Regions from separate parts of the Homo sapiens genome. Here region 2 is linked to region 1. The links come from fine-mapping of genetic effects on gene expression. Tissue or cell type: whole blood. Region 1 holds a variant in brackets; the other region holds the start of a gene. All regions are shown on one strand. Distances are between the middles of the regions. Region 1 has its middle 34 kb from the start of FOXI1. Region 2 holds the start of FOXI1 (forkhead box I1).

Evidence for each region. PIP is the estimated chance that this variant, and not a neighbour inherited with it, causes the effect. A credible set is the group of variants that fine-mapping cannot tell apart.
Region 2: it holds the start of FOXI1, and the variant in region 1 is the best candidate, but not a certain one, in a credible set for the expression of FOXI1 in whole blood (TOPMed, PIP 0.79).

Annotation. Positions count from the first base shown.
Region 1 is chr5:170,138,509-170,141,412 of GRCh38, forward strand. It overlaps the pseudogene KRT18P41. Among named protein-coding and RNA genes, the nearest start is that of FOXI1, 34 kb to the left of the region's middle. The variant C/T (reference allele first, on the strand shown) is at 1,800.
Region 2 is chr5:170,104,596-170,107,499 of GRCh38, forward strand. FOXI1 (forkhead box I1) reads left to right here and starts at 1,302. Exons shown (of 2, transcript NM_012188.5): 1 at 1,302-1,936. The coding sequence starts at 1,363.

The DNA of each region.
Region 1 (2,904 bases):
CAAAAGCCACGTCATCTGGCTGTGTTCAAGCTGAACAGTCCCTTGACCCAGGGCCCATGACAGGGCAGAGGGCATATTATTATCCCCATTTTACAAAGGAAAGAGCTGTCAGACACAGTGTCACACAGGAAGGTAGACGATAATGTCAATATCCCTCATCTTAGTATAAAGTTGTCCTTAAAAACTCTCCATTATTTATTAATTTATTGACTCACTTATTCATGTTTTCTGCACAGTGATACTTATCCTGCACGAGACTCTCACACCAGTGCTTTGGGTGTAAGAACACCCCAAGGATTGTGTTCCCTTTTCTCGAAGAGTCTGTGGTCTAAGGGGATTCAATGGGGTCCACTTTCCAAACCAAGACAGCAAAGGAACACTAGGAGAGAAGTATTCTGTGCAGAGATTCAGTTATATGATAGCTAAGAGGTGGACCTTCCATTTAATACTTTGCCTTGGGCAAGTCACTCTCCTCAGTTTCCTCACCTGCTAAGTGGGCATAACAATAGTACTGACTTCACTGGGCTGTTGCGAGGACTGAATGAGATGACATGGAAGGTATCTGGCTCACAGTCAGTGCTCAATAAATGGTGATTACTAAAGAAAACCCATGAGGAAAGGCTAAAGGGTCTGGAATTCAATGGGACAGCTAATTTTGCTTGCTTTTTTTGTTTGTTTGTCTCAAAATTTTGCTTTTAAATTGAACATTTTGCACAGTTATTAAATGTGTGCACTGGTCTTGTTTATACCTGTGATCTAGTTGAATCCTCAAAGCAACTTCTTGGAGCAGGCATTGTTAATTTCTTCTCATCTTGCGCATGAGAAAACTAAGGACCAGTGATAGGAAGTTCTCCAAAATCACACAGCAAGAAAGGATGTGAGCCAGCGTCCTGGGCTGCTTGTCTCCACCCTGGGCTCCCTCTTGTTACATGATGGATGGGATTTGGTTGATATTTGGTTGTAGATTGGGCAGGAAAACTAAGGTTCAAATGGGGCAGTGAATGGCTCAAATGTGATAGGAAAGCCCTGATGGGAAGGGTCGTTAAACCTTGGAATGGGCGACTCCAACAGAAGCAGAAGCCCTAGCCAGGACGACTTCCCCATCATCTTCCTGGATGAGTCACAATTCACTGTGGTCCTACCTACAGGCAGCAGGCAGGGGGATGAAAAAGATGACCAGCCACCATCTTTACTTTCCCCAAGTTCCCCAAATGTTGTCCCCCTTCATTATTATTCAGCCAATGATGACAAAGCTACTGGTGTTGCCACTGCTCCCCACACCCCTCCTCCCACTCCCACAAAGGAACTCTATCCTGCTCCATCTATGCACCATTTTATGCTGAATCACTCGGTGATGGAGTGATCTGGTGTCTGTTTACACAGAGGAAGCCCCAGCCTGAAGACCTGGTCAATCCAAGTCAAACACATTCGATCCTTAGCACGTGCCCTGTCATGTGGCCTCCCTTGCCCACTCAGGCATAGGATCTACCAGGGCGCTTCTTCCCATCGAGCTGAGAGGCCACTGGATTAGTTTCTTAGATCTGCCTTAACAAACTGTCATAAACTGGGTGGCTTGAAACACAGAAGTTTATTCTGTCATAGTTCTGAAGGCCAATGTGTCAACAGAGCCAAGCTCCCTCCTGAGGCTCCACGGGGAGTTGTTCCTGGCCTCTTCCAGCTTCTGGTGGCTCACAGCATTCTGGCTCATGGCTGATAACTCCCATCTCTGTTCCTGTCATCACGTGGCCTTCTCCCCTTCTCTGTGTCCGTGTCTTCTCCTCTTCTGTTTCCTAAAAGGA[C/T]GTTTGTCATTGATTTTAGGGTCCACCTGGGTAACCCAGATAAGCACATCCCAAGATCTTTAACTTAGTTAGATCTGCAAATGCGAGTGTTCACATTTTCCAATTCTTAAACTAAAATAAGGTCCCATTCACAGGCTTCCAGGGTTAGGGCATGGACATATGTCCTGGGGGCCACCTCCAGCCCACTGCAACCACAGAATCTTTCTCAGCACAGTTCTCAAATTAGTTGATGCACACACACAAAAAGATGATGGCCCATGAAATGCAGGCCTTTTATTTATTTATTTATTTTTGCTCTCTGAACTTTTTATTGGCCTCCTGCTCCCCAGAGTGGACCCTGCTTCTCCTGGCTTAATGTCTCAGAACTTTGGAGTCATTGGTCTCAGACACCACTTTGCCGTCCACTATATGGTGGGTGGTGGTCTTTTGGGTGGTTTGCATGGAGTTGCTGCTGTTCAGGGCATCACCAAGACTGAATTCCTCACCGTCTTCCAGCAGGCAGCGTTAGGTGGTGATCTCAGCCTCCTGCTTGACTTTGATGTTCAGCAGGGCCTGGCACTCCTGGGCCTGGAGCTGCCCCTCTGCCCAGGTCTATGCCAGCTCTGACTCCAGGTGAAGCAGGATCCCGTTGAGCTACATCTGAAGGATGTAGTGGGCCTCCACTCAGGCTGTTCTCCAAGCTGGCTTTCAGATCTCTCAAAGAGTTCAGGTCGATCTCTAAAGACTGGATTGTATGTCTCGGCTCCATTGAGTGTCACCTCAGCAGCTTCAACCTCGGCGGACTGTGTGGTGACCACTGTGGTGCTCTCCTCAATCTACTGAGACTAGTACTTGTCCAGCTCCTCTTGGTTCTTCCGAGCCAGCTCCTTGTATTGGGCCCGGATGTCTGCCATGATCTTGGTGAGGTTCTGAGATTTGGGGGCATCTACCTCCATGGTCAACCCAGAGCTGGCAATCTGGGCTTGTAGGCCTTTTACTTCCTCTTTGTGGTTTTTCTTCATGAAGAGCAGCTCCTCCTTGAGAGCTTCGATCTCTGTCTCCAGCTGCAGCCGAGTGACATTTGTGTCATCAGTGACTTTGCAGAGCCCATGGATTTCGCTCTCCA
Region 2 (2,904 bases), 34 kb before region 1:
CCTGGCTGCCTCCATGCCAGGGGCCTCTGCGAGCTGAAACATGAAAGGTCTTTGGATCAGAGAGGAGCTGGGAGCCTGCTTGCCCTGCAGCTGGAAAGAAACTTGAATTGTTCAAGTTCTCTCACTTTTCCCTGAAGACTGATTCCCCATTTTCCCCTTTTGCTATTATTTTTAAGAGCCTTGCTGCTCTCCAGGCAAATTCTCAGGTTCTCTGCCCGTCTGCAGCATGTATGCATATGCGTGTGTGTGTGCGTGCGTGTGTGCGCGTGCGTGCGTGGGCGTGTGCGCGTGTGTGGGCGTGCGCGTGTGCGTGTGCGCGTGTGTGCGTGTGCGCGTACGCGTGTGTGCGTGTATGTGTGTGTTGGGGGAGGCTGCGGTGCCTATGACTGGTTGCCCCCTTGAACCCCACCAGAAGCCAGCCCAGGCCCCTCTGCGCCCTCTTCTGAGTCTCCAGGGCCGGTTCTCTCCTGGCAACTCCAGAAAGTGCCTCCTCACCTCAAAAGACCAAGAAACAGGGTTTCTGATAAAGTGTCCCACCCAGTCCCGGCTGGGGCAGTTGGTTAGAGAATGAGGGGACATTGGGGGGAAGAGGAGGGAGAATGAGGGGATGGGAAGAGAGGCGCAGAGAAAATGAGAGGTGGAGAGAAAGGGACAGAGTGAAAGAGAAGGAGAAAGGGGAGAAGCCGGGAAGACAATGAGAATGGAAGCGAGAGATGGAAGTGGAAAGAAGAACTGGAAGCCTAGAGACAGAGGGAGAGAGGGAGAGAGGGAGGGGGAGAGAGAGAGAGAGAGAGAGAGAACGGGAATGAGCAGCTGTGATGTGGCCAGATCAGTTCATAGAAAAGAAACACAGTTCAGAGCAGAAGGGAGGAAAGAAAATAAGAAGGAAAGAAACAGAGAATGAGATGCAGAGAGGAGAGGAGGGAGAGAGAGAAGGAAACCGAGGTGGGTAGAAAAATGTGACGAAAGGGAAGGACAGAAAAAAAAATGAGAGAAGTAAGACAGAATAAAGGAGAAAAAGAAGAAGGGAATCATGAGGATGGTGAGAAAAGACAGGAGAGAAAGCCGGGAGAGAGGATAGAGGGGCGTTCTCGCTGCGCTGCGTGTCAGCTCTGGTAAGCCGTCTAGCATGTCATTAGTGGGGACCTGAGGCGCCAGCGGGAAAGTCCCCTCCCCGTGGGCTGGAGGCTGAGGGAGGGCGGGCCCTGGGCTGGGATCCACAGGCAGGTGGCCGCCCCTGGGTGGGGCCGCCCGGCCAAGCCCTAGGGGTATAAGTGGGAGGCCGGGCCTGCTGAGCACCTGTCAGGGGCAGCTCCGGGGTGCAGGTGCCAGGCAGGTGGCTCCGGCCAGCCCAGCCCCAGCATGAGCTCCTTCGACCTGCCGGCGCCCTCCCCACCTCGCTGCAGCCCCCAGTTCCCCAGCATCGGCCAGGAGCCCCCCGAGATGAACCTCTACTATGAGAACTTCTTCCACCCACAGGGCGTGCCCAGCCCTCAGCGGCCCTCCTTCGAGGGGGGCGGCGAGTATGGGGCCACCCCCAACCCCTACCTCTGGTTCAACGGGCCCACCATGACCCCGCCACCCTACCTGCCCGGCCCCAACGCCAGCCCCTTCCTGCCCCAGGCCTATGGAGTGCAGAGGCCGCTGCTGCCCAGCGTGTCGGGGCTTGGGGGGAGCGACCTGGGCTGGCTGCCCATCCCCTCGCAGGAGGAGCTGATGAAGCTGGTGCGGCCACCCTATTCCTACTCGGCTCTCATCGCCATGGCCATCCACGGGGCACCCGACAAGCGCCTCACTCTCAGCCAGATCTACCAGTACGTGGCCGACAACTTCCCCTTCTACAACAAGAGCAAGGCCGGCTGGCAGAACTCCATCCGCCACAACCTGTCGCTCAACGACTGCTTCAAGAAGGTGCCCCGCGACGAGGACGACCCGGGTAAGGAGGCTTTGAGTGTGGGGGGTGTCCCCAAGGAAGACTCACTTCCTTCCTCCCCAAGACCCCATTCTAGAAAGTTCTGACTAGGGCTGTGCCCCCCAAGACTGGGGGATGCTACCAGGCAGGACAGAGGGGAGCTCAGCAGTGAAGGAGAGCATGGGCCTGGGGGAAGATTTGGGTTTCAGCCCTGGCTGTGCTCCTGCCCAGTCAGTGACCTCTGGCAGGTTAGACCTCAGAGCCTCAGTTCCCTCATCGGAAAACCAGGGATAGTGACAGCATCTGCTTTGCAGGCTGCAGTGGAGGTGATGAGATAATGTACACAAGGTTTTAGGTGTTATCAAGCGCTTAATCGCCTGCAGTAATTACGATTCATCTGCATCTCCAGCACCCAGCACATAGAAAGTCTTTGGTGAATGAATGACTGGACCAACCAAAGCCCAAGGGCATCCCAAGACTGCCAGGAAGAGGATCTGACCTGGGTTAAACAGCCACTAATGGCCCATTTTGCTGCCTGCCTTGTTTCTACTTAGGTAACCTCCTTTAACCCGAAGACACCCCTGCAGGGTAGCTCTTATGAAACCCATTCTACAGATTAGGAAAATAACACTCAGAGGTGACACAGAATGAAGTGATAGTGATGGAGCTTGAATTTGAACTCAGTTTTCTCTAACATCAGAAATTGTGAGCTTTTCCTTTTCAACGATGCATTTCTAAAACTCAGAGACCTGCAGAGAGGCATGTATTAAATACTCATGCATCCATTTCCCAGAATTAAAGTCCACTTTTGTTCCACCGCAGGAAGCCAAGGTATAGCTCAAAGGAACCCCAACTCTGCCCCATTTGAGGGTGGCAAACACCAGGCCTGTTTGTCCCCAGAAGAGGGCAAGTGTCCTGTCCAAGGACTGCCATCACCCTCAGGCTGAGAGACGGTAGCAGGAAGAGTTCAGGCCTTCCCTCGGGAAGGTACC